Regions from separate parts of the Homo sapiens genome. Here region 2 is linked to region 1. The links come from fine-mapping of genetic effects on gene expression. A gene starts in region 1. The other region holds a variant in brackets. All regions are shown on one strand. Distances are between the middles of the regions.

Region 1 (16,502 bases):
TTTCAGCAACCCAGTGAGGGAGTCAGGCTGACATGCACAATCTTCCTTTTAGTCCCTTCTACCTCTTCTATCCTCCCCCCATCCCCTGCCTTGATCCTGAAAAGATCTGGGTCAGCAGGTAAGAATACAGGAAATGGTTTGACATGTTAATTACAGTAACAGGAAGAACACAAAGGTAGAAACCTGTAATGGAACGAGGAATGAGGATATGAAAATGCACACACCTACCTACAACAGTGTAGACCCTGCCTAAGGAGGGCCACAAATCTGGCTCTAAACTAGGGATGTCCAATCTTTTTGCTTCCCTGGGACACACTGGAAGAAGAACTGTCCTGGGCCACACATAAAATACACTAACACTAACTACAGCTGATGAGCTTAAAAAAAAAAAAAAAAATCGTGGGCAGGCGCAGTGGCTCACACCTGTAATCCTAGCACTTCAGGAGGCCGAGGTGGGAAGATTGCCTGAGCTCAGGAGTTTGAGAACAGCCTGGGCAACATGATGCAAAGCCCATCTCTACTAAAATACAAAAAAATAGCTGGGTATGGTGGCACACACCTGTAGTCCCAGCTACTGGGACGGCTGAGGCAGGAGAATCACCTGAATCTGGGAGGCGGAAGTTGCAGTGGTCTGAGATTGTGCCACTGCACTCCAGCCTGGGTGAAGGAGCAAGACTCAGTCTCAAAAAAAAAAAAAAAAAAAAAAAATCACAAAAAAAAATCTCATAATGTTTTAAGAAAAGTTTACAAATTTGCATTGGGCCGTGTTCAAAGCCATCCTGGGCTGCATGCGGCCCACAGGCCACGGGTTGGAAAAGCTTGCTCTAAATTTTCTCGAAGAGACTTATTCAACAGAAACGTAACAGGAGCTGCACATGGAATTTTTAATTCTAGAAGCCACATTTTTTAAAAGTAAAAAAATTTAAAAAAAGAGTGAAATTATAAAAATACATTTAACCCAATATATACAAAATATATTTCAACATGTGATCAACATAAAATAATATTATTATCCATACTTTTACTTTTTTAAACTAAGTCTTCACAATCCGTATGCACTTGACTCTTGTGACACATCTCAACCTAGACAGTGGCATGTGGCTCCTGTGTTGGGTGGCGAAGGTCTAGAAGTTGTTGTATTTGGGTAGATGCATCTACAGTGTCCCACAACCCAGTGTCCATAAAATAACAACCATTCTGGAAGAACAGGCAGCCAACACAGCTCAGGGCCCCAGAGGAGGCATAGGGTCAGCATCAACACTACCAGACACATGGAACTCCAAGTTTCACAGTGCCTTCCGAACAGAGACATCACCAGCAACTGACACGATCACCCCAACAGGCCCTAAAAAGGCAATGTCTGTCAAGCTGAAAGGCAACCTACCTCCCTGGGGGCCCAGCTTCCTGGGGCTTGACGAGGCCTACAGGGGCTTTTAGGCTATCTGGGAGACGAGTGACCAGTTCTTTCAGCACCTCCTGCTGGAATATTCTTTCTCAGCAACTTTGCATTTGATAGATGAGAAACAACCAGGCGGAAAATTAGTGACAGACTTGGGTCTGGATCCAGGACCGACCTTTGATCTCACTTTCCTTCCACTGTGACCACCCTCCTGGGAATGAGGACACCACTGGAAGGACATCTCAGTAAAGAAAGAAGTGCTGTAATCTAGGAAAACCACAGCCCACGTAGGAAAAGGACAGGGATTGGAAATGCAACAAACATTGATTGTGGGGGGTCAGTTGGTAAAGGCCACCCTGCAATGTTCATGTGGCAAATCAAAGTCCAAGACGGGATCCCCACTGGATTCCATGGCCTCAAATGCTTCCAGTCATCAACTTCCAGCTCCTGACAAGATCATCAATGGATTGGATGGCTCAGCATAAGTTGTTACTACTGTTAAAAGGACAAGAAGAGCTGTTGCTATTGGCAAGTGGCAGGAGTGGGCATTATCTTTCTATATGGGAACTAGCTTCCCAGTGGCACCTCCAGCAATTTACAGAAAGCCATCTGCTGATGGGATCTGTCCCCTCAGAGTCACAAAGCTCTCCCTAACAGGACAAGAAGATGCCTGGGGAGCAAAGCAGCCTGGAGGGCAAGGTCACCACAGGAGGGAGGGGGATAGCCCACCTAGGCGACACCCAGGGAAAGGCTGAGCAGGAATCCACTGAGGACCTGGGACAGTTTTGGGCAGTCAGCAACACATTCCATTTGGCCTGCTTCACCAGGGACTCCTGGCACTCAGCTGAAACGGAATTTGGGGAGGACAAAGTCTGAATCAACGTGCATCATCCATCAGTGAGCCAGCAGCCAGCAGGGAGGGTGACCTTCCCAGGGCACAGCAGTCAGATTCCCAGGATGCCAGGACACTGAATCAAAGGCATGGGGACTCAGGCTGCAGATGCTCCCACCCCACCTAGTGCAGACCATCAAAAGACTCAAACTAATGGTAACTGGGGCCAGGGTGATGACTGTCCTGTGAAAGCTAAACCCATACTTCTAGATGAGGTCACAGAGGTTGCAAAGTCACCCTAGAGAGTTTGGAAAGGAGCAGGTAAACGAGAGCACTCACATCTGAGGAAAGAATGCAACCACTAAGAGGGGGCTGAGAAAGTCACAGAACAGACCCAGGTCCATCCTAGATCCACGCTCCTTTCCTCTTCCCTCCACTGGAACCCTCTCGGAAAGCTGAGGATGAGCCTGGAGGACTCAAAAGAACTCCACTAAGATCATGACAAGGAGACACAGCCAGCAGCCTTCCCTGGAGGGACAGCACGCTCCAGGTAGGCACCAGCTGACTTCCTTCTAACTTCCAGAGGAATCCCACCATAAATGGCCATGGAGCTGCCTGCCTGCAAAGGAGCCCCAGCCCCAGGTCAGACAGGGCCTCATCCGAAGGACAGCCATTTCCGGGAGCCTCAGAAAATACCGAAACAGGCGCTCTACCTTTGGGATATACCTGGCCCAGTGGATTTGGCTCTGACTGTAACATCAGAATCCCTTCTCACCCCACCCAGACTAAGAGAATCCACATGTCTGGAAAGGCTCAGGTAAGGGTATTTTTGAAGCTCCCTGGTGGCTTTTTATGGACGGTGGATGGAAACCCAGTAAATGCACTGAGAATCCAGAGAAATGAACACCCACCTAAAGCACTGAAACACATGATCAGAGCAATGTGCATGGTCTAGTGAACTGTCAACACTCAAAGGGACCTCGAAAGACAAACACCCCAATCTCCTCCTCATCTTGAAAGCCCAAGCACAGAAGGGCAAAATGCCACCGGCCTCCTCCGTGAAGGGTGCCCCTCAAGCCAGGCTGCCTCTCTCACACAGCAAGAAGACACTGACTCCCTGCTGAGGTCAGAGCACTGGCGTACCCACACCTGTGTCATCAAATGAGGGAAGCTATTACTAGACCTTTCCTCCCTATACAACCCACAACATTCCACAACGTGTTGTGCAGTTTAGCAAGAGAGACGAGGGTCTGCTTTACCTTTCCTGCACCAGCGACATCACAAGTTCACTGGAGGCAAAGTAAGTCTTACGCTACCTCAGTGTACTCCAACTCTCATAGAGCTCATCTGATAGAAGAGTCAGTGATGACAGAATATTCTATTTATGCACTGTCAGTATAACATTGAGGAACTGCTTTTTTTTTTTTTTCTGAGACGGAGTTTCGCTCTTGTCACCCAGGCTAGAGTGCAGTGGCAGATCTCAGCTCACTGCAACCTCCGCCTCCTGGGTTCAAGCAATTCTCCTGCCTCAACCCCCCAAGTAGCTGGGATTACAGGCACCCGCCACAACACCTGGCTAGCTTTTTTTATTTTTAGTAGAGACGGGTTTTCACCATGTTGGCCAGGCTGGTCTCAAACTCCTGACCTCAGGTGATCCACCTGCCTCGGCCTCCCAACATGCTGGGATTACAGGTGTGAGCCACCATGCCTGGCCGAGGAACTGCATTTTTACATGTTAATTTTAATTGATTGTGTTTAAATAGCCACATGCAGCTAGTCCACCCTATTAGACAGCACAATGCAAGCATGACTCTTCCTACTACTACCATGTGCCTATGCAGACACTGGAAAAATACATAGGAGTAGTAGAGGCCAAGTAAAGAGACCACAGTGGATTCTCCTCTGCAGAAGCCTTCTCTGGAGCAGGGCAAGGAAGGCTGTAGGGAGGCATATAATGCACATTACACAGCCCTCCTCCACAAGCAACAGAGAGACAGCTCTTTCCCAAAGTGCTATCTACAAACTATCACCAAGGAACAAGCAAAAAGAGTTTGAGAAAGAACTGTAGACTTGTGTCAGAGCAGAGCAAGAATGAGTTGTGCAAATCAGCTAGACCAACTGCTCACTTTACAGATGAAGAAACTGAGGCTCAGAAACGTAAAGAAACTTCCATAAAAATCATAAATCATGGGGTTGGAGGTAGCGTGAAACTCAGCCCAAGACTTTTTTCACTACAACTGATTTCCTCAGAGGATGATAAATCTGTAGAAATAGCAAGAAAAATTGGCTGTTTTCAATGCAATGTCAGGCAGAGCAGAAATAAATTACTGACTCATGCCAGAAACAAATGGCTCACCACTGCTCCATTATAAGCATGGACACAGTAGAAGAGGAACCCACACACACACACATATCCCAGGAACCCACACAGAGAGTGAAGGAAGAATGCCAGGACTGGCTTTGATTTCTTCCCAACTCACTGGAGTAATCCAATAAAGGTTTGCTGACAGATAAGCCTAGGAATTTGAGCCTTCATATGTTCTTGCTCACCTACAGAAGAGTCACTTCCACAACATCAGAGTCTTGGAGATGTGACCGGAACAAATGGCAGACTCAAGCCCCAAACATGCAGGAGCATCCTGGTCGTCACCTGCCCAAGAAGCTTCCTCAGGAAGTCATTCTCAGCCAATTCCCTGAAACACTGCAACCCAGCTTTGATTGGCCAGGCATCTCTTCCACATGGAGTTGGTCTTCCTCACTGACTACCCCCAGGTCTCCTACACAAAGATCTGCCTGTCCTACCAACTAGATTGTAGACACTCCAAGGCAATAAACTGCTCTTCCATTCCTTTAGGAGACCCACTATCCTGAGGGCCAGGTATGTATGTTACTAAGGATTGGCCACAACAAAAGTTACAAATCCTTGAACATATGGGGTTTCTTTATAGATCTAAAGTTGATGCTACCTTTATAACACTGGAAAGGTCTCACTGTTTACAAGGGTGAAACACATTATCAGAGCAATGTGGGCCGCACATCCCTGGAAGGTACCGCTGAGAAGGTGAGAAAGGGGAAAAGATTCTCTCACTCAGCCTCAAAACTGTCCCCCAGTATCAAAGTCATCTCCTCTCACACAGCATCCCTAACTAAGGTGGCAGCCCCTCTGCTTATCTGGAAAGAAGTACAACACACCTACCCTCCACTGACCTAAAGTGTGCCTCCTCCATCTACTGCCAAGTGACACTTTGCTCCTTCAGTGAAGCTTTCAGCAATGCCTCCCAAGCACTAAGGCCAGGCCTTTCTCTGCACTCCATCAGCACTTCAGACACACAACTCTTTTGGAACTTGTTACATTACCCTGCAATGATTTGTTGACAAACTTGTTCTCCTTTCCTGCCCCAGCAGACTGGGGACAGAGTAAGTCTAAGCCCTCATTCATCCAACACTCTTCAGGGAGGCTGGAATCTGGGCTCTCCTTCTCTCCCTGCTCTCAGTGCTCTCACCTGTATTCTAGGATCCAGTTCTTCCTCCTCTCTTGGGGACAATTTGGCCTCACTGCTGCTGCTTCCACCTCCTCCAGGCTCTTCTGCGACTGGGCTCCTAGGGACTTCATCCTCTACAACTTCAGGCCGCAGCTCCCCCTGTGGGGTCTCCCGCCCTCCTGGAACCTGTCTGAGCTCAGCCATGCTGACAGGGGGAGGGCAGAGCCCTATGCACAAGAGAGGACTGACATGCTGGGACCAGGGCCCCAGCTTGGGGCTTCCTGGGCTCTAGATGGCCAGGAGAAGAGTTTCTCTTCTCAAAAGGCAGAAAAGGTGGGCACAGGAAGAACCTCACACTAGGTTAGAGGTTGAGATTCAAGTTGTCAGTGGGGTTCCTAGAGCTGAAGCCTTGTCTGTGCAAAAGTTCTTCCCTTCCCGCCACAGGGAGTCCACTGTGACAAACCCGGAGCAACAGCTCCAAGGCAGGGGGCAAAGGGGGCTTGGATCCTGGACCGAGGCCTGCTAGGAGGAGCACCATTCGGGAGGGTGGAGGCAGGCGCCTCCAGGCTGTGGTGGCAGCTGGAGAGAGAAGGCTGGGCCCGAGCTGAGGCTGTAGGATGAGCGTCTCTGGGGAGCTGCAGAGAAACAAAGGCCAAGTATATGGTCATGTCAGCATCAAAACCGCAGCCACCAGCCCCTTCCAACTCTACAGCCTCCCAAAAACTACACTCTCACCACGCCCCCACCCATGTATTCCGACCAGTCCCTACCTCAACTTCTCTCCTTAGCCCTCAAGGACTTTAGATTCTACTCTTCCCCCGTCCCAGCTCCTCTCGACCCAGGCCCTCCTCAACCAGCGCCTTCGAGACTTTCCTCTGCACCCCTAGGCTCTCCTCCATCTCCTGTGGTCTCCCGCTCGTCCCACTCCACCCCAGCCCGGCTTTGCGATTCACCTTGTAACCCCGAGCCCCACCCCACCTTCTCTGTCCAACCCGAGACATCTAAGCCTCCCGTCTCCAATTCCACACTCTTCCGCAATCCCAAGGACCCTACTCCCGTCCATTCTACCCAGCCATGCGCAAAAGCCCCCCGCACAGCCTTACCTCAGTTTACCTTCCCGTCCGCGGAGCTTCTATGCTGCAAACAATCTCCCCCCCTCCCTCCCCGCAACAAGCCGATCCAACCAAAAACGACCAGGCAGACCAGAAGCGGAAATACATCATCGGTGAACAACGCTCTCCCTCCCACGCTCTCTCTCAAGCCGGGCCTCCTCGGGAGGCCTCACACTCCCCCGCCCTGCCTTCAGTTTCCGTACAAAATGGTGCCCCACGTTGCTCAGGCTAGCCGTAGGTTGCCTCCAGACCATACTCCACCAAGGCTGAATGAAAGAAAAACATGAGAATGTGGTGCTGAAGAAAATTAGGGCGCGGGACGGAAATCGAGAGTAACTGGTGAGAAGAGGAATACTAGATATAAAACGGAGATAATAGCCTCAGAGTGAGTAGTGCCATCTTGCTTTACGGAGCTGCGGCGGCGGCTGCCGGAAAGCCACTTCCGGCCTGCTCCACGGAGGCGGGCGCGACGCCGAAAGTGAGCTGGTAAACTTCCGGCAGTGGCTCCGGGGGCAACTCGAGTCCGGACGCTGGCGGGCTTCGCGGGCGAAGGCAAAGTCGATTTCCAAAAGTGACTTTCCTCACTCCCGTGAAGTCGGCGGAACCCTCCACTAACGGCGTCTGAGCGGACGGCTCCGATGTGTAAATCCCACTCCTCGAGGCCTCTGGACCTTGCACCTTGAACGACGTTTTGGTGGGGTCACCAATTGCTCCGTGAATACTAACCAGGAACTTAGTCAACATTAACTCAGTTAATTCACTCGTGCACCCAGGGTCAGATGCCCTCGATGAGCAGGAGTTTGTTACATGGCATTGTGTATCGTTACCTAGGTCCCTGAGCGAGCGCCTGCTTGTCACCTCTAGGTGTCGCTTGGTGAGGGGAGGGCCTAGGCCTAAGGGGAAGGGCTTCATTCAGGGTTGGATGTTTTGTTTTTACAAAAGGCGTAACTTCCTCAGAGTCAACTCAAAACTTTGCCCTGCAGATGGAAAAGGCAAATGGGCTGAATTCCCCTCCTTTTTGGATCCTGTCAAAGACAACCCAGCTAGACATTGAAGCAGTGAAAAAGACTTTTTTCAGTAACTACTTACAGAAAGGAAAAGAACTGACCTCTGTTCCGATTTGTACAGAAGTGACTGGGCATTTCAAAGGGAGAATGAAGGAAGGAAGGTGATCAGGGCTCAATAGTGTTGGAGAAGTGAAAAATTACAGATTTGATTGGCATAGATGCGATTCGGCCAGATGTGTCTGCTAGCTAGCAGCTATAGAAGTTAGAGTGCTTTTTTATGTATTTATTTATTTTGAGACGGAGTTTAACTCTTGTTGCCCAGGCTGGAGTGCAATGGCGCGATCTTGGCTCACTGCAACCTCCGCCCCACCCCCACCCCCGAGTACAAGAGATTCTCCTGCCTCAGCCTCCCGAGTAGCTGGGATTACAGGTGCATGCCAACACATCTGGCTAATTTTTCTATTTTTAGTAGAGACGGGGTTTCGCCACGTTGGCCAGGCTGGTCTCGAACTCCTGACCTCAGGTGATCCACCCGCCTGGGCATCCCAAAGTGCTAGGATTAGAGGCGTGAGCCACCACGCCCAGCCTAGCTTGCTATTCTTGCACTGAGATTGGGAGGTAGAGGCTCTGCCCTTCTTGACGATCAATTTCAAAGGAATGGCTCTCAGGTCCTTTAGAAGGACCTCTTGAGTTGTAGCAGACGCATAAACACCTTAAAGAGAAGAAGGAAGGATTCATAATGGTAAGCCCTTAATAAACGCCCTGAGAAAGGGAGGTCAGGAGCCTATCATCAGGTGTTGGCTAGAACAAATAGTAAATTCTCCTGGTAGCATTGAGCTTTCTCAGGCAGGCATTTTCATGGGGGAGCTGGGGTTCTCCTAGGGACATGATCTGACACTGCTAGAAGGCATGCTAAAGTTTGTCTCTTAGTAACTCAGAGGTTTGGATGGAGTCATGTGCCAAGAGTTCTACAGTTCTCAGTCCATTTCTTCTATCCCTTCATCCCATGAATAACGATTTTTTTAAATTGAGCAGAGCAAAATATATTCCTTTAAAAGAGGTGATTGAAAACAGATTTTTCCATTAAATTGGAGGTTTTGTTTTTAAAATTACAAAAGTGATTTTTCTAATTTCAATAAGTCAGCAGGACCTTGAGTAACATTGTCTAAGTGGACAGCTTTGATGGATAATAATGCCTCAGTCTTCTACCACAGTCCTTTTTATTATTAAGGTGCCATACAAAAACCATAAAAATTAAATATAAGGTGATAAACATGATTTATTTGTTGTCTACCAGTCACTTTACTTTTGTAGAACTAGAATTTCACTGTAATAACCTCATTTTACCCAGGATGTTCTGTCTACCCTAGCCTGAATTATCTAACCTTTCTTATTCAGCACTGCTCCAATACCTGTCATTCTTATACCCCATCCCATAGCTCCTTTTCTCTGTGTAATGCTTAGCAATCACAAACTGCTGCTACGTGTCACAGATCTTTGGTGGGAAAACATTATGAATACATATAATGGCCAGACCCCTAGATCACATCCTGAGATTTAGCAGCTCCTTTAAAGTCTCCACTGGCCTCTTCCAAGGTTAACTCTCACCCACTGAGACCACATGTGAATCTATCATGTATAGATTGTGATATAATCCCACAATAGTTTTTCTGCTGGGTTTGGATAATGTTTTGGGTAGGAAGAGATTGGGCGATGCTGTGCATTGATTTAACCTGAACTTGTTTATTGAAGCCAGCACAAACATGATGAATTAAAACTTTTGTCTACAGCAGCACTGTCTGAAAGACCTTTCTGCAAAGAAGGAAATGTTAATCAGCTCTGCACAGTATGGTAGTCTGTAGACACATGTGGCCATTTAGAACTTGAAATGGAGCTACTGTGATTAAGAAGTTGTATTTTTTATTTTAATTTAAATAGCTCTGTGTAGCTAGTTTCTCCTTTCCTGGACAGCACGTTTTTAGAACCTGCCTTTTCTATATAATTTCTCCAGAATACATACTGAACTTTCACATCTTCAATACAAAACAAACAGCCTCTCAGTCTCCACTATCATTTGTCTTTTCTCCACTTCCTCCCTTCCCATTCACCCCTACAGTCTGGCTCCGGATGCTGCCAATTCATAGGAATTACAAAGATAAGGTCATCCATGCTCTCAATATTGCCACATCACTGACATCTGACACTGGGTTATTTCTCTCTTTTTTCTTATCATTTAGCTTCTGAGTCACCCTGGTACTGGGTTTCCTCTTCTCTGGCTTGTTGATTCATTCCTTTATGCAATATGTCTTTACGGAGTGCCTATTACGTGCCAGAATTTCAGGCAATGATGAGAAAAAGGACACTATCTCACTTCCCATGTAGGTGATAGTCTATGGTGCTCATTTTATTTTATTTTTGTTTATTTATTTATTTACTTATTTTTACTTATTTATTTGAGATGGAGTCTCACGCTGTCGCCAGGCTGGAGTGCAATGGCACGATCTCAGTTCACTGCAACCTCCGCCTCCCAGGTTCAAGTGATTCTCCTGCCTTAGCCTCCTGAGCAGCTGAGACTACAGGCACATGCCACCACGCCCAGCTAATTTTTTTGTATTTTTAGTATAGACAGGGTTTCACCATGTTGGTGAGGCCGGTCTCCAACTCCTGACCTCAAGTGATCCACCTGCCTCAGCCTCCTAAAGTGCTGGGATTACAAGTGTGAGCCACCACGCCCAGCCGATGGTGCTCATTTTATAAACTGGTGAGATTCAAACTAATTGGAAGACAACTCAGATATATGTTTTACCTTGCAACCCAGTATACATATATGTGTGTAAATATATTCATTAAAAAGGTACAGGACCTCTCCCCTCTCCCCTCTCCCCTCTCCCCTCTCCCCTCTCCCCTCTCTCCTCTCCCCTCTCCCCTGCACGGTCTCCCTCTGATGCCGAGCTCTCCCTCTGATGCCGAGCCGAAGCTGGACTGTACTGCTGCCATCTCGGCTCACTGCAACCTCCCTGCCTGATTCTCTTGCCTCAGCCTGCCGAGTGCCTGCGATTGCAGGCGCGCGCCGCCACGCCTGACTGGTTTTCGTATTTTTTGGTGGAGACGGGGTTTCGCCGTGTTGGCCCGGCTGGTCTCCAGCTCCTGACCGCGAGTGATCCGCCAGCCTCGGCCTCCCGAGGTGCCGGGATTGCAGACGGAGTGTTGCTTACTCAGTGCTCAATGTTGCCCAGGCTGGAGTGCAGTGGCGTGATCTCGGCTGGCTACAACCTCCACCTCCCAGCCGCCTGCCTTGGCCTCCCAAAGTGCCAAGATTGCAGCCTCTGCCCGGCCGCCATCCCGTCTAGGAAGTGAGGAGCGTCTCTGCCCGGCCGCCCATCGTCTGGGATGTGGGGAGCGCCTCTGCCCCACCGCCCCGTCTGGGGTGTGAGGAGCATCTCTGACCGAATGCCCTGTCTGAGAAGTGAGGAGCCCCTCCGCCCGGCCGCCGCCCCGTCTGGGAAGTGAGGAGCCCCTCTGCCCAGCCGCCACCCCGTCTGGGAGGTGGGGGGCCCCTCTGCCCGGCAGCCGCCCCGTCTGGGAAGTGAGGAGCCCCTCTGCCCGGCCGCCACCCCATCTGGGAGGTGTACCCAACAGCTCATTGAGAACGGGCCATGATGACAATGGCGGTTTTGTCGAATAGAAAAGGGGGAAATGTGGGGAAAAGAAAGATCAGATTGTTATTGTCTCTGTGTAGAAAGAAGTAGACATAGGAGACTCCATTTTGTTCTGTACTAGGAAAAATTCTTCTGCCTTGGGATGCTGTTAATCTTACCCCCAACCCCGTGCTCTCTGAAACATGTGCTGTGGCCACTAAGGGTTAAATGGATTAAGGGCTGTGCAAGATGTGCTTTGTTAAACAGATGCTTGAAGGCAGCAGGCTCCTTAAGAGTCATCACCACTCCCTAATCTCAAGTACCCAGGGACACAAACACTGCGGAAGGCGGCCCTCTGCCTAGGAAAACCAGAGACCTTTGTTCACATGTTTATCTGCTGACCTTCCCTCCACTATTGTCCTATGACGCTGCCAAATCCCCCTCTCTGAGAAACACCCAAGAATGATCAATAAATACTAAAAAAAAAAAAAAAAAAAAAAAGGTACAGGAAAAGATCTTTACCCAAATTATATGTAAAGCACATTAATATTTTTATACTATTTTTAAATGCTGGTGGAGATCTCTTGTTGATTTCATTACCTATTCACAGTTTGAAAACCCTGTCCTAAATGTTACTGTACCCCAGGCCCTGATGTTAGCTTCTGACCATCTCATGCTGCCTACTTTCCCTGAGTGTCCTTACCCTAGTGCATGGCTGTAGTCCTTACCCATGGCTACTGTTCCTTCCTTAGAGCTCTGTCTTCACAGACTTTCCGCAGATCACATTCTGAGATCCTTCAGCCTTTGAGATACCGCTGGCCTGTCCCAGAGTTGCCCCTCTCTCATGGATCCAAATCTGATTTCATCCCCTTTGCCAAATCCTGCTCTTCTGACATTCAATGCTGGTAAGCGGTTCTACAGTCCACCTCTTTACCCTACGGAAAAACCTAGAAGGCACCCCCCACATTGCTTTTCATCACACTAAGTATCTCAGAGAGATGCCTTCTGTTCATCTCATTGCCATAGCTTCAGCTTAGACTCTCCTCATTTCCATCATAGATCACATACCTCAGAAGTCTTCTAAATCAGCGCTTAAAGTAGCACTTAAGCAATGATGGAAGTTACTATATTTGCACTGTCCAATATGGTAGCTACTAGTCATGTGTAGCTCTTGAGCAGGTTTAAATAGCCACATATGGATCCTGCCACAAGGATCCCTCCTAGTTCCTGGCACTAATAAACAACCAACCAATCCCTATAGACTGACTTTATGAGTGAAATGTAAAAATATGAAAGCCATATAAAGATGTTAGCAACACTGTCAATTACTATGTAATATCACAAATCAACTTTACTTCTTAGTTAAATAATTTTTTCATAAATTTTTACTTGTAACTTTTATTTCTAATTTTCTCACATAAGTACCCTAAATTGCCTCCATCATTAAAAATTACCTTTTTTAGGTTTTTTTTGTCTACCAACATAAGCTACCTTTTTATAGTTCTTAACTTTTTTCTACTATCAGTTATATATTTAATAAATACCACCATTAATTGCTGATTAAACATATTAGTTGACAAATATATAGTAATAGAAAGCAGATCAGTGGTTGCCTGGTGGGGAGGTGGTAGAGATTACAAAGTGGCATGAAGCAGCTTGTGGGTAGTGGATATGTTCTCCATCTTGATTGTAGTGAGGCTTTCATGCGGGTATATATATGTCAGAGCTTTTCAAACTGTACATTTCAGTGTGTAATTTGTGTATCAATTATACCTCCCTAAAACTTTTTTAAAAATCCAGTTGAAAACTTGCTCCCAGAAATATATAATGTAAAATCTACTAATAAATGTTAATGGAAGGGACAGCCTGTATTACGCTTATTTGTTTATTTAACTTTTTAGAGACAGGGTCCTGTTCAGTCACCCAGGCTGGAGTGCAGTGGCCTGATAATAGCCCACTGCAGCCTCAAACTCCGGGGCGCAAGCAATCCTTTTGCCTCAGCCTCCCAAGTAGCAAAGACTACAGGCCTTCACCACCATGCCTGGATAATGTTTTGATTTTTGTTTTTGTAAAGATTGGGTCTTGCTATGTTGCTCAGGCTGGTTGTGAACTCCTGGCCTCAAACAGTCCTCCTGCCTCAGCCTCCCAAACCATTAGAATTACGGACGTGAGCCCCCACGCTTGCCCTAAACCTGTATTACTAAAAATCTTTATTTTTACCCTTGTTAAATCTGCTGAGTTTTCCAGAGGTAAATTACTTCCCCGAGTTGCTCATCACATGTCATAATAAAAACAGCAAACACTTATGCAGTGTATGCCTTGCACCTGGCACTGTTCTGGTTTATTCATTTGATCCTCACAAAAACCAACTACAGTAAATTGTACCTTCATTTTACAGTTGAAGAAATTGACAGACAAGGAGATTAAATAACTTGTCCAAGGTCATACTGCTGCTAAGTGGTGGAACCAGTCTTTAAACACAGACAAAAGTATTTAAGATTTTTAAAAATAATTTATAGCAACACATCATATATTAAATGTATCTACTTACATTTTAAATGCTCTAATTTGTGAAAATAACCAAAATCAAAATGCTTTCTAAAGATCCGACAGGTTTGCATGTGATACCATTATTATTTATACTACTGTTCTTTTTTATTTTATTTATTTTTTATTTTTTGAGATGGAGTCTCGCTCCGTCGCCCAGGCTGGACTGCAGTGGCGCGATCTAGGCTCACTGCAAGCTCCATCTCCCGGGTTCATGCCATTTGCCTGCCTCAGCCTCCCAAGTAGCTGGAACTACAGGTGCCCACCACCACGCCCGGCTAATTTTTTGTATTTTTTAGTAGAGACGGGGTTTCGCCGTGTTAGCCAGGATGGTCTTGATCTCCTGACCTTGTGATCCGCCCGCCTCGGCCTCCCAAAGTGCTGGGATTACAGGCGTGAGCCACCACGCCCAGCCCCTATACTACTGTTCTTAACCTTTAAAGTGGTTTCAATTATAAAAACTGATTCTATCCTACCTTGCATTTTACTTTGAAACTGATTTTCCCCCTGAAAGTTCTGCTTTATGATTTTAAGCTCATTTTCTGTGTTTTGTTTTGTGAACCACTGAGCCTAGATGTGAATTTTGAACATAATTTCCATATAACATAACTCAAAAAATTGTGGTTAAGGACTAGGAAGCAATTTGTATTTTAAAGGAAGTTGATCTTCAGATATCCTCTAAACAAATATTCTACTTTTGTGCTATTCCAATTTTATCTACTTTACTATAGCTCTTCACAATTAGTTTACCTGTACAAATGTAAAAATAATTAAAGTAGCATTCTCTCCGATGGAATCGTGTTTGAGCCCTTGAAGTTGACCACAGACTGTAAGCAGCACAAACTCCAATAATTTTCTATTAAGATTACTGTTTAAAAGACATTAAATCCTCTGTGTCAAGCCATTAAGATTAATATGTGTGTTATTGATTCAATTTATGTTTTTGCTTATCTTCTTGTTTCCTGAAATCCATTTTGATATGGCTTTACAATATGTTTGCAACTTGCAATTAATACAAACCCTTATTCCTTAAACACTAAATAAAATCTTCATTTCAGGATTTAGTCAGCCAGTCTTTCCAGATCTTATTATTCTAAATTGTTAGATTTCACTTTTCTGTACTTGGTTCTTTCCTGTATTTGAAAACTGTGTCAGTTGACATCTGTGGAATTATTCGGGGAAGAACTGGAAGCTACCATGCTCTAGAAGCCAATATTTTTATTGTAACTGAAATTAGAATGTTTGAAGAATGGCAAACATTGTATTTAGCAATACAGGAATAAGATTCATGAAATTGAAACAGTCTTCTCAGTCCTTATACCCCCAGTAACACAGTAAGCCTTCAGCATCTGATTTTTGGCATTGTGAATATCCACTGGGCTCACATTTCAGACAGGGATTTGAAATAGTGGTCTATACCTTAGCCCTACTTACTTGCCTTTCAGTTGCCCCCAACAGCAACGTAAGCCATGTACTATGTGCCTGCTCTGCATGCCTATAACTTTTACTTCCCTTCCTTTCTGTCTCACTTCATAAACCACTGACAGTGCCCTCTAGCCAAACATAACCACCTTGATGCTGTTTGACTTACTTCAGCATTGGACATTGTCCACCACTTCCTCACATGGGAATCTAAAACCTGACCGTGTCCTGACCTTCTTCCTCCCCAAAGCCTTTACTGGCTTCCCCTTCTGCAGCTGCTTCCTTTTGGAGGCTGGTGCTCTAGGTATGGTGCCTTCAGCCCCTACTAATCCACCTATAGCCTCTTAGAAATGTCATCCACGCCCACGGCTTCGCGTATTCGCCTCTAACTTCCTAGTCTTTACAAATCCTGATACACCATGGCTCCTCCTCTTCTCACTGAGGGAGGCCTACACCCTTGGGTATGGGATAGACTCTATACTGTAAAGGAACATAATTTATTCATCTCTATATTTCTATTACCCAGCCAGGTGCAGACTCAGTGGGTCCTCAATAAAAGCTTCTGAAAAGGAGGAATTCCTTGATTTAGCCCAAAACTTATTTGCATTTCCTCTTCCAATACCTTCACCCACTCTACCTTCTTGAATTCCTGTCCCACCCCACTCAGCATCTTCCACAGGATTCTGAGCCTCCTCCACTCACTCAGTCTGGATTGAGTGCATGCTCACTCCCTTCCTGTTCATCTAATCCCTCTGCCTGACCCAGTCCCATCACTTATATTGCAGAAATCTGCCACTGGGGGTGTGTGGTGGGAGGTGAAAATCATTGTCACCTCCATCCACAGATCCCTATACAAAATCTTGGCTACATGCTGAGCCAATGAAGTTTACTGATGACCTATTGCAGAATTACCCTATTCTTCCTGTTGTACCTTTATACCACTTTGTACTTTGCACATGATGGGATGGCAAGGTCTGTGGGCGGGGGGAGCGGTTGCCATCCCTCAGCATGTCCTCAAAGGACTCAGTCTCCATTTTGTCTCCGATACTCAGCCCATTTCTTT
Region 2 (16,502 bases), 22 kb before region 1:
AGGTGGAGGTTGCAGTGAGCCAAGATTGCGCCACTGCACTCCAGCCTGGTGACAAAGCAAGATTTCATATCAAAAAAAAAGATAAAAAAATTGTTGAGCCCAGGACGTTGAGGCTGCAGTAAGCTGAGATTGCACCACTGCACTCCAACCTGAGCAACAGAATGAGACCCTGTCTCAAAAAAACAAAACAAAAAATAGCTTAGGTAGGTCAGCATCTTACTCCTCCAGCCCCTTGAGTGAGGTTGCCTCATTAAACGTTTAGATTACTTTGTCACAGTGTTCATTTCTTCTTGTGATTCTCCCCACCTCATAAATGATTTTTTAAATTTCACATACATTAAGGTAATTCTTTGTGCTCTAAAACTCTATAGAATTTGACAAATACTTAACGTTTTGTATTCACCATTATATTATCACACAGAAGTTTCACTGCCCTATAAATTTTCCTGTGCCTCACCTATTTAACCTTCACTTCCTTCCCCAGAACCTCTGGCATCTACTAATGTGTTTAAGGTCTTTTAAGTTTTATCTTTCCCAGAATGTCATATAATTGGAAGCATATATTATACAGTTTTTTTTCTGGCTGGCTTCTTTCACTTCATAATATGCATTTAAGATTCTTTTATTTTCATAATTTGATATCTCATTTCTTTTTATTGATAAGAAGCTATTCCATTGTATGGATGCAACACAGTTTGGTTATCCGTTCACCTATTAAAAGACATCTTCCTTGCTCCCAGTTGTGGGTGATTATGAATCAATCTGTTACAAATATTTGCATGCAGGTTTTTGAGTGGACATACATTTTCAAATCAGTTGGGTAAGAATTTAGGAACGTGATTGCTGGATTACATGGTAAGATTATGTTTAGTTTTGCAAGAAAGTGTCAAATTATCTCCCAAAGTGGTTGTACCATTTTACATTCCCACTACCTGTGAATGTGAGTTTATTTCGCTCTGCAAACTTTCCAGCAGTCAGTATTATCAGTTATTTGCATTTTGAATATTCTAATAAGTGTGTAGCGGCATCTCACTGCCGTTTTAATTTCCAATCCCCTACTGACATATCATGTTGAGCACCGTTTCATATTTTTATTTTCCATCTGTATATCTTTTTTTAAGGTGTCTGTTCAAATCTTTTGCCCACTTTTGAACTGGGTTGTTTTCTTGTTGAGCTGTAAGAACTCTCTGTACATTTTAAATACAAGTTCTTTGTATATTTTGATATTATCAGATGTCTATTGTTCAAATTTTTCTCACAATTTGTGGTTTATCTTTCCTTCCTTTGAACCATGTCTTTAGCAGATCAGAGGTTTTCAATTTTAGCAAGTCCAACTTGTTAATTTTTTATTCCATGGATAGTGCCATTGAAAAACACATCATCAAACCCAAAGTCATGCAGATTTTCTCCTATTTTTTTTCAAGTAGCTTTATAGTTTGGCATTTTATGTGTATGTCTATTTTCAGCTAACTTTTGTATAAAGTGTAATGTCTCTGTCTAGGTTCATTTTTTTGCATACAGTTGTTCAATTTATCCAGCACTTTTTACTGAAGGCGGCTATCTTCTCTCCATTAAATTGTCTTTGCCCTGTCATCAAAGTTCAGTTGACTATATTTATGTGGATCTATTTCTCTTCTCTATATTCTGTTTCACTGATCTGTGTGACTATCTTCAATTGATAATATGCTGTCTTGATTACTATAGCTGTATAATAAGATTTGAAATTGGGTAGTGTCGTTCCTCCAAATTTGTTCTTCTTCTTTAATATTGTGTTGGCTACTCTAGATCTTCTGCCTTCTCATATAAAGTTTAGAATTAGTTTGTTGCTATCTACAATAACCTTCTGGGATTTTGATTGGGACTGCATTGAAAAAAGCCAGGGAAAATCTGTATTCCATTTTAAAAATTATTTTTAATTATGGTAAAATACACATTACACCAAATTTACCATCTTAGCTATTCTTAAGTGTTCAGTAAGTGGTGTTAAGTATATTCTCATTTAGCACGCAACCAAACCACAGAACGTTTTTATTTTGCGAAATTGAAATTTTATACCCACTAAACAAGACTTTCCCATTTCACCTTTTTCCCCTGGTAACTATCATTCTACTTTCTGCCTCTATGAATTTGTCTTCTAGGTATCTCATGTAAGTTGAATCATACAATATTTGTCTTTTGTGACTGGCACATTTCACTTAGCATAACTTCCTCAAGTTAGTCATTGACTTCTTATGTTAGTCTTGTATCCCATGACCTTGCAATGCTAACTTACTTCCATAAATTGGTTTGTTTTGTTTGTCAATTCTTTGAGATGTTCTACATAGAAAATTGTATCTTCTGCAAATAGAGTTTAATTTTTTCCTTTCTAACCTGTAACTTTTTTCTCGTTCTTGTGTTATTGCACTACCTAAGATTTCCAATACAGTGTTGAATAGGAGTGGTAATAGAGGACAACCCTGCTTTGTTTCCAAGCTCAGAAGAGCATGCCATTTTCATCATTCTGTGTGATGTTAGTTAGCTGTATGTTTTCTGTAGCAATTCTATGTTAAAGAAGTTTTACTAATTCATAATTTGCTGAGAATTTTTATCATAAATGGGTGTTTGATTTTGTCAAACTTTTTTTCTGAATCAATATAATCATATGGCTTTTCTTCTTTAGTCTGCTGATGTGCTAAATTATATTGCTCAGTTTAGAAACCTGAATCAGTCAGCCGGGCGCGGTGGCTCACGCCTGTAATCCCAGCACTTTGGGAGGCTGAGGCGGGCAGATCACCTGAGGTCAGGAGTTCAAGACCAGCCTCAACATGGAGAAACCCCATCTCTACTAAAAATACAGAATTAGCCGGGCTTGGTGGTGCATGCCTGTAATCCCAGCTACTCGGGAGGCTGAGGCAGGAGAATTGCTTGAACCTGGGAGGCAGAGGTTGCGGTGAGACGAGATCGTGCCATTGCACTCCAGCCTGGGCAACAAGAGCGAGACTCTGTCTCAAGAAAAGAAAGAAAGAAAGTTAAATCAGTCTTACATACCTGAAATAAATTCCACTTGGTCATGGTATAAAATGTTTTTACACACTGTTTGCTTTGATTTGCTAATATTTTGTTGATAATTTTTACATTTATGCTCATGAAAAATACTGGTCCATTGTTTTCCTTTCTTTGGTGTCTTTATCTGATTTTGACTAGGATAATGCGGGCCTCATAGAATGTGCTAGGAAGTGTTCCACTGCTTCTATGTTATGGAAGAAATTGTGGAAAACTAGTATCAGTTATTCCTTCAATGTTTGATATAATTTACCAGTGAAACCACCTGGACCTGATGTTTTCTTTTTTGGAAGGTTAATAATTAATGATTTAATTTATTTAATATATAGAACTGTTCAGCTGATCTATTTCTTCTCTGTGAATTTCGGCAATTTGTATTTTTCAAGGAATCAGTCCTTTCATCAAAATCATCCAATTTGTGAGCATGGATTTATTCATATTATCTTTTTATTATCATTCTAATGTCCAAGGGATGATTAACATTCTTTCATTTATAAAATTGATAATTTGTCTCCTCTCTGTTTTTCTTGGTTAGCCTGAATCATTAATTTTACCAGTCTTTTCAAAGAATCAGCTTTCGATTTTATTAATTTTTCTCTATTGTTTCTTGTCTTCAAATTCATTCATTTCTGCTCTAATTTTTATTATCCCTTTTCTTCTGCTTCCTTCAGGCTTAATTTGTTTGTCTTTCTCTAGTGTGCTAAGGTGGAACGCTGGGTTATTGATTTTAGCTCATTTTCTTTTCTAATGTAGACATGTTACTAAAACTTTCCCACTATGCACTCTTGCTGCACCCCACACATTTTGACAAGTGGCATTTTCATTTTCATTTGTCCTAAATATATAAAAACTTTTCTTTACACTTCTTGATTCCTTATTTAGAACAGTTTTTGTTTCATTTCCGAATATACTGTAATTTTCCAGCTTTCAGTTATTGATTTCTGGTTTAATCCCACTACGGTCAGAAAACATACTTTGTATGATTTCTATTAATTTTGTCAAGATACTATTTTTATTATGGTAAAAAAAAAGTGGATAACACAAAATTTACCATCTTAAGCATTTTTAAGCTTACCATTCTGGGTTTTTTTTGTTTTTTGGGTTGGTTTGTTTTTGTTTTTGAGACAGGGTCTTGCTCTGTTATCCAAGCTGTAGTGAAGTGGCATGATCTCGGCTCACTGCAACCTCCACCTCCCAAGTTCAAGCGATTCTCCTGTCTCAGCCTCCTGAGTAGCTGGGATTACAGGCATGCGCCACCATGCCTGGCTAATTTTTATATCTTTAGTAGAGACGGGGTTTCACCATGTTGGTCAGGCTGGTCTCGAACTCCTGACCTCGTGATCCGCCCGCCTCAGCCTCCCAAAGTGCTGGGATTACAGGCGTGAACCACCGCACCCAGTTACCATTCAGTTTTGCTAACAATATTTACATTGCTATGCAACCAATCTACAAAAGAAGTTTTTATCTTGTAGAACTGGAAATTTTTACCCATTAAACAACACCCCATTTTCCTCTCCCCAGATTCTCTAGTTACCACTGTTCTACTTTCTGCTTTTGTAAGTTTGACTATTCTAGATACCTTATGTAAGTGTAATCATACAGTATTTGTTCTTTTGCGACTGGCTTGTTTCACTTAGCAAAATGTCCTCAAGGATAGTCTATGTTGTAGCATATGTCAGAATTTCCTTCCTTTTTAACGTTAAATAATATTCAATTGTATATAACGTATTTTGTTTGTCCATTTATCTGTCAATTGACATTTGGGTTGCTTTTACCTCTTAACTATTGTGAATAATACTGCTTCAATATGGGTGTGCAAATATTTCAAGAGTCTGTTCTCACATTGCTATAAAGAAATACCTGAGACTGGGTCATTTATAAAGAAAAGAGTTTTAATTGGCTCGTAGTTCTGCAGGCTATACAGGAAGCATAGTGGTTTCTGCTTCTGCGGAGGCCTCAGGAAGCATCCAATCATGGCAGAAGGCAATGGGGGAGCAAGGCCAGGTGACTTGCTTTGGCCAGTGAAAGGTGAGTGAAGGGACAAGTCTTGGGACCCCTGTGCACTGTTTGCCACATCCCTTCCACCTGCCGGAAAGATGAGGTTCTCAAACTCCAGGGTACACTAGAATCACTCTAGGGGTTTGTTGAAAGCTGCTGGGGTCCACTCCCAGCATTTCTAATGCAGTATTGCTGTGGGCAGAGGAGTGGAGGTAGGGGGCTGAGAATTTGCATGTCTAACAAGTTTCTGGTGATGTTTATATTGTTGATCTAGAGAACACATTTTAGGAACTAGAGTCATAGAAGGATCCTCCCTGGGCCAGGGTCTCTGAGTGATACCTTCCTATTGAACCATGTTTAAGATGAAGGTTGGGTGGGGAATAAACATTTTTCTGTTCCCATTTCACTGTGGGATTTTGATGTTTATAGGTGAAAGAACATATCCCACACAGAAGCATAAATCTCTCACAACCAGCAGGACCTCGAGAAAGAAACACCATTTTGATTAGAGGGGCTTTAGTTTTCCCTGGGCTCCAGGTACACAAATCCACACGGAATTAATGGTGCAGAGCTGTAGAGAGGCTCTCAGCCATGTCCTAAGGCACATTCTCCTCAGTCCTCTCCCACCTGGTACATAGGATACCTACTTCCAGGGGGAAATCCAAGATTTCCTGGGAAGACAACTCCTTTCCCCTGTGCCTTCCACGGGTCCTGCCTATAGCTTGAGTTCACTCACAGAATCTGGTTTCCTATTGTTGGATATCAAACACTGTTGGAGCCAACAGAGGGTGGGACCTGTCTGAAACAAGACTCATCAGTGATCTTCCTGATCAGAGCCATAAACCTCTGGCCGGCAGTCAGCTGAAGGATTCAGGCAGCACTGGGAACAGCCACTTCACCTAGGAACTTGGAGATAGGTCAAGATAAGGAGGGCTGTAAATCTAACTCGGGCTCAGCTAGAGTCCTGGCACGTATGAGTATCATTTGTGCTACCAGCCCGGTCACCTACGAGGCATTCCTCTTCTTGTCTCTGATGTCCCGGTCACCTACGAGGCTTTCCTCTTCTCATCTCTGATGTCCCGGTCACCTACGAGGCTTTCCTCTTCTCATCTCTGATGTCCCGGTCACCTACGATGCTTTCCTCTTCTTGTCTCTGATGTCCCGGTCACCTACGAGGCTCTCCTCTTCTCATCTCTGATGTCCCGGTCACCTACGAGGCCTTCCTCTTCTTGTCTCTGATGTCCCGGTCACCTACGAGGCTCTCCTCTTCTCATCTCTGATGTCCCGGTCACCTACGAGGCCTTCCTCTTCTTGTCTCTGATGTCCCGGTCACCTACGAGGCTCTCCTCTTCTCATCTCTGATGTCCCGGTCACCTACGAGGCTTTCCTCTTCTCATCTCTGATGTCCCGGTCACCTACGAGGCTTTCCTCTTCTCATCTCTGATGTCCCGGTCACCTACGAGGCTTTCCTCTTCTTATCTCTGATGTCCCGGTCACCTACGATGCTTTCCTCTTCTTGTCTCTGATGTCCCAGTCACCTACGAGGCTTTCCTCTTCTCATCTCTGATGTCCCGGTCACCTACGAGGCCTTCCTCTTCTTATCTCTGATGTCCCGGTCACCTACGAGGCTTTCCTCTTCTTGTCTCTGATGTCCCGGTCACCTACGAGGCTTTCCTCTTCTCATCTCTGATGTCCCAGTCACCTACGAGGCCTTCCTCTTCTCGTCTCTGATGTCCCGGTCACCTACGAGGCTTTCCTCTTCTCATCTCTGATGTCCTGGTCACCTACGAGGCTTTCCTCTTCTCGTCTCTGATGTCCTGGTCACCTACGAGGCCTTCCTCTTCTCGTCTCTGATGTCCCGGTCACCTACGAGGCTTTCCTCTTCTTGTCTCTGATGTCCTGGTCACCTACGAGGCCTTCCTCTTCTTGTCTCTGATGTCCCGGTCACCTACAAGGCCTTCCTCTTCTTATCTCTGATGTCCCAGTCACCTACGAGGTTTTCCTCTTCTCATCTCTGATGTCCCAGTCACCTATGAGGCTTTCCTCTTCTCGTCTCTGATGTCCCTCCCTCCAGCGTGTATTTTCACGTCTCTCCTC[G/A]TCTCTGCTGCTTCACTTTTGTCACTTTCTCCAAGTCTTTTGGGTTTGTCTAGCTGCAGATGTTTTCTCTCATCCTCATCATTTATGCTTCCAGATCAGTTTTCCTGTCATTCTTATTCAGCTTTTATCTCTGTCACATTCTCTCTGAAAGTGTCGTTAAATATATATACATATGTATGTATATACATTTTTTTTTTTGAGACGGAGTCTCACTCTGTCACCCAGGCTGGAGTGCAGTGGCGCGATCTCAGCTCACTGCAAGCTCCGCCTCCCAGGTTCACGCCATTCTCCTCCCTCAGCCTCCTGAGTAGCTGGGGCTACAGGTGGACGCCACCAAGCCCGGCTAATTTCTTGTATTTTAGTGGAGAAGGGGTTTCGCCATGTTGCCCAGGCTGGTTGCCAACTCCTGAGCTCAGGTAATCCGCCCGCCTCAGCCTCCCAAAGTGCTGGGATTACAGGCGTGAGCCACCGTGCCCGGCCCTAAATATATTTTTAACCAACCCAGAAAAAATTAAAAAGTATATCCCAGGTGGCAGGTGAACTAAATACCTGGTTCACTTTATTTAACCTCGGGTTTGTTTTTGTTAGTGTTATGAAGACGTAGCTCCCCTCCTCCTAAGGCCTCATGCCCTTTTCTGTTAACAGTCCCTTCCAATGGGGCAGCCATGGTCACTATTGCCAGATGCAACTGTTTGAGGGAATGGAGAGGATTGTAATCTGAGGCTTCTGAAATTGTAAAGTGAAAGAGGAGATCTGGTAAAAGGGGCGAAGATCAGCTGAAGGAAGGTCAGATGTGAGTACAGCAGCAACGGTTACATTCCCACCCTGGGCTGCAGAGGCAGGTGGGCTGCAGAGGCAGGTGGGCTCCTGGCCTCTCTCTCCAAGTGGAGTGGGAGGCTGAAACCATAGCAACACTGAGGTTAGCACACAAGGCAGGTGACATTAAGCAACATCCTCTCCTTCTTCCCTAAACCACAGCAGCCCCTGCGAACCTGTACAGCTCCATGAGCCTCCTCCAGCCTTCACTGCTGCCCCAGGCCCCCAGGCCCTTAAGAATTCCTGCTGGAAAAAAGCAGGCCGTGGCACAACTGAGATTTCCTTGTGTCAGTGTGAAGATGATCCAGCTCTTCTGCATGTTATTGCAGAAATCATAGAGACGAAACAGGATGGGGTGGCCTGGAAGGAGCATGGAAGATGAAGCCGCAGCTGAGGAAGAAGGCAGCTCTGCTGCTCCACTCTACCCTAGACCAAGAAGGTTCCTCTTTTCTAAATGGGGAAGAAACTCATTTTGACACTCCCTTCCTCCTATGTTTGAATAAATCAAGAAGCGTATCTGCACTGTGCAGTGAAAGCCACCTGCCTGCCTGGAGAAAGAGAAACTACTGCCCAGCACTCTGAGCTCTTCGACCTCTGGACGATGATCATCTCACACCCAAGCAGAAATATCCAGCAGCCCTCTGCTCCCTCCGGGCTGGGTCCTAACCAACTCTGGACTTGCTCAGGTTTCTCATGCTCCAACCCCTAACCCTGTCTGCAAACACATGCACCATTTCACATCATCCATCAGAACTCTTCGCATGGCCCAGCCTCCACTGCCAGCTGTATAATTTTAGTGCTTTAGATAACCTTAGAGGTTATCTACTGAGTCTGTCCACACTTCCGGCAGATTGGAACACTGAGGCCCAGAGGAGCTGAGTGAATTGTCCCTGTGCACATAACCCCTTGTGGCAGGGGCAGGCCAAGGGCAACCCTCTCTGAATAGTGTGGTCAGTGTTTTTAACACCGAAGCTCTCAAAAGAACTAATGTTTACTGAGCACCTAGAATGAGGGTGACCATATGTCCTAGATCACCCAAGTCAGTCCCAGGCCACACCTGCCCCCTTTCACACTCAGCTGTCCCAATTTAGACTATGCATCACGTATGGTCCCTGTACATATGTCTATTGTGTTATGTGTTGAGTGAGATGGAGTCAAGGATGATACTGACCCCTTCTTCTGAGGACTTAGGACCAACAAGAGACATGTCTACAACAACCGGCCCATTCTTCAGTAAGTCAAAAGAGCCATGGGGAACTTGAGAGTGATAAGGATTAATTCAGACTGGGCTAGAGAGGTGCCTGTGGTTGAATCCCAGCTCATGTGGACTTTTGACCACATGATCTGGTCCTCAAACCACAGGCAGCAGTTTGACAGTTTGAGAAGGGAGGAAACTTGTGCCAAGGGTAGCACAAGCAGAAGTAAGTCAGTAGACAGCTGTTTGGTGAAAATTTCCACATTCCAGGTCCTGAGAACACCAAGATGGGTGAGACACAGGCCCTGGGAGCTCAAGACAGATTTGGGAAGAGTGAGGATTGGGAGCCAGGCACCACTTCTCCAGTCTGAGACCAAGGGGCTGGTTCAGAGCTTCGGAGAGCAATGCCCAGCTGTAACCTCCCAGATTTTTCCTTGACTGCAGCCCTCATTAGTTATTTATTTACTTATTTTTAGAAATAGGTTGTCCCTCTGTCACCCATTCTGAAATAGTGGTGTGATCATAGCTCACTGCAGCCTCAAACTCCTGGGCTCAGGAGATCCTCCCACTAGCCTCAGGAGTAGCTAGGACTACAGGTGCATGCCATCACGCATTGCTAATTTTTTTACTTTTTGTAGAGTCGGGTTCTCACTATGATGCTGAGGCTGGCCTCAAACTTGGTCCTCAAGTGAGCCTCCCACCTTGGCCTTCCAAAGCATTGGGATTACAGCTGTGAGCCATTGCTCCTGGCCTGGTTATGTATTTTTCACTGCCCTGCACCACCTGTGCACACCTGCATTCCTTACCTGGAAGACCCACCCATGGCATTACAGTTTATAGTGTTCCTAACAAGGCCTACCACAGTGTTTGTACACTGAAAGATCCTGGTGAACATTTCTTAGTAAACTACACATATCCATTTGCCAGCCAGTGTATGGTCTCCTGGTTCCCTTATCCCAGGGCATGAGCAATGTGTTGCAGCCTGGGGCTCAGGAATGGTGAGCAGGCGTGGGTGGAGAAATTTATAAAGAGGCTGTGGAAAGGGAGAGGGAAAAGACACTAGGGAGGCCAAGGAAGGAGGTGAGCTCTGAGGAGAACAGGGTACATCTACATATCGAACATCTTACCTCCTGAGACCAGCTGCGCTGCAGACTTGAGCCAGCTCTCACACGCAATAGGTGATTCCGAGGACACACGGGAATGCAAGAGGCCCATGACAAGTACAAATAGGGTTCCATTCTGATGTATACACACCCCCACCCTTCTATGTGCAGTTTTTCAGGCCCTTCTGCAAAGTGCCCATGAGGCTGACCACGCAGGCTTGGAGGGTCAACACGCAGTGCGCGCAGGGAAATGCAGAGCCCAGGCTCTGCGCACTTTCTGGTAGCTGCTGCCCCCTGCTGACACAGCAAGACCTTGACAGCCCAAGAAGGTCATCTCCGCTCTTCCTGCCAGGCAGAGTAGGAGCATCTACAGATGGGTTGATTCCACACCCCACAAATACGTACAATTACAATATGTCAATTTTAAAAGATGTCTAAAGGCTGGAAGCATAACCAGGCATGGTGGCTCATGCCTGTAATCCCAGCAATTTGGGAGGCCGAGGTAGGGGGATCGTTTGAGCCCAGGAGTTTAAGACCACCCTGGGCAACACAGGGAAACCCCGCCTCCAAAATAATCCAAAAATTAGCTGGGCATGGTGGGACACACCTGTAGTCCCAGCTACTTGGTAGGCTGAGGTGGGAGGATCTCTTGAGCCGAGAAGGTCGAGGTTGCAGTGAGCCAAGATCACATCACTGCACTCCAGCCTGGGCTAGAACGAGTGTCACAAAAACAAACAAAAAAAAAGGCAAAGAGCAGTGGTTCAAGCCTGTAATCCCAGCACTTTAGGTCAAGGAGGGAGGACTGCTTAAGTCCAAGAGTTCAAAACCATTTTGGGCAACACTGCAATACATCTCTACAGAGAAAAAAAAAATTAAGTTAAAAATTAGCGGGGTATGGTGGTGTGCATCTGTGGTCGTAGCTACTAGGGAAGCTGAGACAGAAAGATTGCTCGAGCCCAGGAGTCCCACGCCGCAGTGAGTTATGATTGCACCACTGCACTCCAGTCTGAGCAACAGCGCAAAACCCTGTCTCATAATAAAATAAATATTAAAAATTAAATTTTTAAAAAGGCAGTGGGGTTGTCATGCTTGTCAAAAATCATATCCAGATGAGGAGGGAAACACAACCCTTTCATAGAGTCCACTTGCCTAGCGCAAGATGGGATGAAGCCTCCGTGAGTTAAGCACTCCGAGGCTGTGAAGAGGTGCTAACAGGAATCGCTGCACCTCAGATCCACTGATGTAGCAGCATGCCACACATGCCTCTATGCTCCCATTTTATAGGCGATAAAATTGAAGCGTCATGAAATTTGAGAATTCCCATAGAGATGTGATCCTGGGATTGTGCATCACCAGGTCCTGACCTCCAAACTGCTGTACTGATAAACCCACCTGATACAGCTGTGGGCTAAGAGAAGGGGCAAGAAGCAAAAGCACATTTCCTGAGCATCTGTTGGTGAGAGCCTGTGTCAGGTGTTGGGTAGACTGAGGCCCCAGCCCCACACTTGAGGAAGATGAAGATCAGAACAATTCATTACCAACAGGCCAATGTAACATGTAACATGACACAGTACAGGAATGGGGGATGGGGCCCTATGTCCCCCACACCTTGACCATCTCTTCCTCACCTTAAACAAAATTTCTCGACCCTCTTTGCTGGGAGAAGGAGCTAAGAAACAGTATTCCCACTTCTCATCTCTTCTTCCCAGCAAAACTTCCTCGGAGATGACTACCTCCACTTCCTCACCTCCTGTTCCTGTGAGCCCAGTGGTTCAAGCGTTTGGACTCTAGAGTCCAAGTGCCTAGTGGGAGCCGCCTCCGTTACCTTCAGCAAGGCTGAGTACCCCCCATTGTGCCTTATTTTCTTACCGTGGAAAGGAAATCATAGTGTTTATCTGTCCTATAACATTGTTGTAGAGATTAATTAGGGGCGTTCCTGGTACGTGAAATGCACTGGATGAGTACAAGTTACTACAACGAGGGTGGGAGGGAGGGAGCTCTTCGGCTTCTGTCTTCTTCTCCTTAGAAGTACCATTGGCTCTAACCTTCCTGGTCTCTCTTCCCGCCTGCCGCATCTTCTAGGTGATTTTGCAAGGAGAAACGCACGTGCATGGCATAGCCCTTCTTTTCTAGGGCTCTTCTGTACCAGGAGCCTCACAGGTCCTGCCTGCCAGTGACTGGGTAGGGAAGTCCAGCACTGTGTGTCATCTCAGAAAGCCCTTCATTAGGACTATAATACTGTATTATAGACTGAAAATTTGCTGAGAGTAGATTTTAGGCGGTTTCACAACAAAAAAGGGGGGAGGTAACTGCAAAATGATAGGCCAATTTGATACCTATTTCATTATGTGCATCAAAATACCATGTTGTTCACCTCCTATACATACAATTTAAAAAATTTAAAAAGCCCACTCACCCAAAAACATATGCTATGCATTTTCATAGCAGCTTTTCTAGTAATAAAATATTATGACACCCATCTGCCAAGTCAGGGAAGGCAATCTCAAACTCCTGGACAGCACCCATCCAAAGGCACAGTGAGTGCTCAGCACATAGCGGCCCCAGATGGCCCCTCAGATGGCGTCCACAGCCACCAGGGTCACTGCTCTGATTGCGTGCCTCCAATTCTTGGCCTTCACCCTGCCCCTTGACCCCAAGGTTTCTGGTCTTCCTCCCTGCCAGCACCTTCTTCTTCCCTTGGCTGACCTCTTCTCAACAAAACTCCAAATACTGGTACACTCCAAGTGCAGCTCAGGCTAAACAAAGCCTTTTGCTCTTCTTCAAAGCTCCTGGAGTTCACATCCCTATCCAATCTCCCACCTGTGAGTTCAAGTGCCCTCAAACCCCTCCCATCCCCCAGCCAGTCAAGCCCTGACTTGGAAGTCACCTTTTATCTAGGTTTTAATTTCAGAGAAACAACGGATAATTCATAATGTAAGTACATCCTAAACACTGCAGCAGACAAAAATACTGCCTATCTGAAATTTCAGTGGGTTCACTGTATTGATAAATCTGGCATCACTACTTGTGTCCCTTCTCTACATTCATGCTCACATCCAGACACATCTAAGATCCCAACCCTCTGGCACTCTCATCTCTTAGCTCAGACAGAGCCCACTCCACCCCGCAGGCCCCTTTCTACCAAACCCTCTCCTGGCACCCATCACCTCACACAGCATGGCCCCATGAGGCACCAACTCCTCCCCTGCTTCTCTACACTTGCCCTGTACATGACCACCCTGGCCATGGGGCCTTCCACCCCCGCAAGAGCATGCATAGCGCAGCTCACTCAATCTGGTCCTTCACCTCCCTTCCCTGACCACACCATCTAAAAAGCCTGCCGCCTAACCCTGCTCTTCCCTTGCCCAACCCTTGCCTCATCTTTGCCCCTTTTCTCTTCCTCCAGCAAGGACAGTAGATGTTAACTGTTACATAAACTACTTTATTTAAATAAAACCAGGAAAGACCCTTTCCCCCTTACACACCAGCACATGCACACACGCACACCCACACCCTCCCTCCCTTTCGGCTGTCTGCCCATGGCCACCTCAAACCCCGAGGTTCTCATTGTGACCAACCTCCCTCAACCTGTAGACCCCCGTGCAGAGTCCAGTTGCCCACGCATCCCGGTTGCTGGCAGAACATGGGCCTAGAAAAGAGCACTCCATCTTCCTGGGGTGGGTCAAAAGGAAGGACTGGTTCTCCCAAGGCACCCAGATCTGGTGTGGCTTCCCTACAAACTGGGAGCACTGCCAGGCAGCTGGAGCTGCTCCCTGCGGAGGGCAGAACTTTTCACCCCAAGCCAACCCCTCCCTGTAACAAAGGAAGTAAGAGGGTTGGCAGCCAAGCTTCAGTGTGCCCCGAGGGATCCTGCAGTAGGTATTTTCAGTTTGGGGAAGAGCAAGGGAGAGCAATTGAGCACCAAATTCCCTAACCCCGTCCTGCAGGAGGGTGCTGAGTCAGTTCAGCATCCTCTACCCAGAAAAAGTAAACACAACTGTGCAGCAAGAGTGAGGGTGGGAATGACAGGGGCCTAAGCCTTCAGGACCTCATGACTTCACCCCCAACATGGGCCCTCTTAGGGACCCACTAGCACCTTGGCAATGTTGAGGACCCAGCCCAGCGGAAACACCATACCCACAGGAGCCAGTCTGGAGTTGGTGATGCTCCCTATGTTGACAGTGGGGTTGGGTTTCTCTCCCTGACACCAGCTTCCTGCAGGCCCTGTAAGTTCTGCTTTGGGGCACACATCGCAGAGTGCCTCAGGTCATGAAAGGGAATGCTGAAGGGAAAGGTGGTGTCTTCCGGAGGCACACAGTACATCTTACAGGTTACACACGGGCAGGCTGGAGCAGGACGGGGGGCAGGGCTCAGCAGCATACCTAGGGTACCCTCCAGAGTTGCCTTGGGAAGGGGGGCGGGGCTGGAAACCAACGGGAGGGGTGACTGTCCATCCCCTCCGACGGGAGTACTCAGGCCCAGCACCCATTTTCTCTGATGAGCTTCCCAGTGCCTTCTAGACCAAGTTCCCTGAGGGAAAAAGCCAAACAGATGGAAAGAGAGGGAGCAGAAAGGGAAAGCAAAGGGTCAATGCCCTGCAGATCGTGATGAGCTGGCAGGCAGAGGCAGACAGAGCGCCGAGGGCGAGCCTTCTGAATGGGTAAGGCAAAGAGAGCCGCCTGCTGAGGGGAAGGGGGAGGCTGTGAGAACGCCAGGGCAGGCACAGAGGACTCGAACACAGCTGGCCTCTCCCAGGGAAGCACTGGAGAAGGGGACCTTCGGGAAGACGAGGCCCCAGAGGAGAGGGCGTGAGAAGACTGTGGGCCCCAACCGGCCCGTGGTGGCAGATTCAAGCCAGGAACCCTGGCCCCTCGGCTACAGGCTGACGCTGCGCTGGTGCCGACCCCCACGGGCTCCGCCGTCGCTGCCCCGGCGCCCTCCACTCCGCGTTCCCAGCTCTTGGCCGTCCAGACTGACGTGGTCCGAGAGGCCTCGCAAGTGCTCCACGGAGTCGCACTTCTGCAGGTCTGAAGCCACCGTGCGCAGGCTCAGCAGACTCAGGGTATCGGTGTCGGGGGCGGGGCCGGGCCCCAGGCTGCTGCCCTCCTCCAGCCCCGCACCCTCGGCCCCCTCAATCCCGCTGTCTCCGTCCTCCATGTCCTCGGGTCCTGCCTCGGCCCCCACGGGGGAGGAGCGCCGAGGGCCCAGGGGGTGGGGAGGCAGACCCCCGCGGCGCCGTGCGTGAATCTGCTCGCTGATCTGCTCCAGGTTACGAAGGGCCACGGAGTAGCGCGTCTTGGCCTGAGCTACCTGCTGCTCCAGTTCTGTCACCTTGGCCTTGTGCTCCTGCAGAGGGCAGAGCAGAGCAAGGCGACCCATGGGGCACGTCTCCACCTTCCTCAGCACTCTGCACTGAGGTCTGAGGGCCTGCTCTCCCAGAATACCTGGACAGCTGGCTCAGCATCCACCACAGACCCACAACAGCCTTCCCTGCTCCACTCTCAGCACCCACCACAGACCCACAACACCCTTCCCTGCTCCACTTGCTCTGCGTTGTTCCTCCCCAGCAATCCTGCTCCTGACCTGAGCCCCACCTTCCAGAGCCTTCCTCTCAGGCCTTCCTCTCCACCAGCTCCTGCTTCCTCATCCTCTCCCCACTGTTCCCTTTCACCCAATGGCTGGTTCTTCTTCCCCATCCCAGATTTCCACCAGTTCTTTTCCTCTTGTTTACCTCCCTTCTTCCAACTACGTTCTCGCCGTCACCAGCCCCCATCACCAGCCCCCATCCCTGCCTCTCACTCCTGCAAGGTCATTTGGAACATGTGTGCCACCACCCTTCCCCACCGCTAGCCGGAGGCCTCACCCTGGCCACCTCACCAAGATGGCCCAGAGAGGCCGACCAGCATCCCCTCCAGCCTGCACCCCCACCTACCCATTCCTCCTCCCCCTCACCCACTCAGCTACCTCCAGGATCTGGCTGAACTGGGCCTTGAGCTCAAAGTAGGGGCGGCTCTTGCCGATGGCCCTCCGGAGGGTCTTCTGCAGGGCTTGGACCCGAGCCTCAGCCTGTTGGCACAGCCGAGTCACTCGCTGGTGCTCCCGCTCACCTCGAAGCCGCTCTTCCTCCGCCTCATTCACCTGGCCCAGAGGACACATCACTGAGCCAGGACCCATGCTTCAGTCTCTGGCATCTGCCCCAGGCTGCCAATCTGAACAACGCCCTGGGGGGAACCCAAACAGGAACATCCTCT

Evidence for each region. PIP is the estimated chance that this variant, and not a neighbour inherited with it, causes the effect.
Region 2: its variant is fine-mapped to the expression of SH3BP5L in whole blood (TOPMed, PIP above 0.99).

What each region holds. Positions count from the first base shown.
Region 1 is chr1:248,819,019-248,835,520 of GRCh38, forward strand. It overlaps SH3BP5L (SH3 binding domain protein 5 like), which reads right to left and starts at 6,897. Exons shown (of 7, transcript NM_030645.3): 1 at 6,817-6,897; 2 at 5,735-6,348. The coding sequence starts at 5,917. It overlaps MIR3124 (microRNA 3124), which reads left to right and starts at 7,359; the gene lies at 7,359-7,425. RefSeq lists a silencer at 1-166 and enhancers at 6,569-6,628, 6,691-7,242, 6,999-7,258, 7,243-7,793, 7,369-7,418 and 2 more.
Region 2 is chr1:248,796,774-248,813,275 of GRCh38, forward strand. LOC124904577 (a long non-coding RNA gene) reads right to left here and starts at 10,745. Exons shown (of 2, transcript XR_007067008.1): 1 at 10,276-10,745; 2 at 2,015-2,981. It overlaps SH3BP5L (SH3 binding domain protein 5 like), which reads right to left. Exons shown (of 7, transcript NM_030645.3): 6 at 16,216-16,389; 7 at 13,673-15,597. The coding sequence ends at 15,127. RefSeq lists enhancers at 5,872-7,071, 8,480-8,689 and a silencer at 15,587-15,636. The variant G/A (reference allele first, on the strand shown) is at 7,138.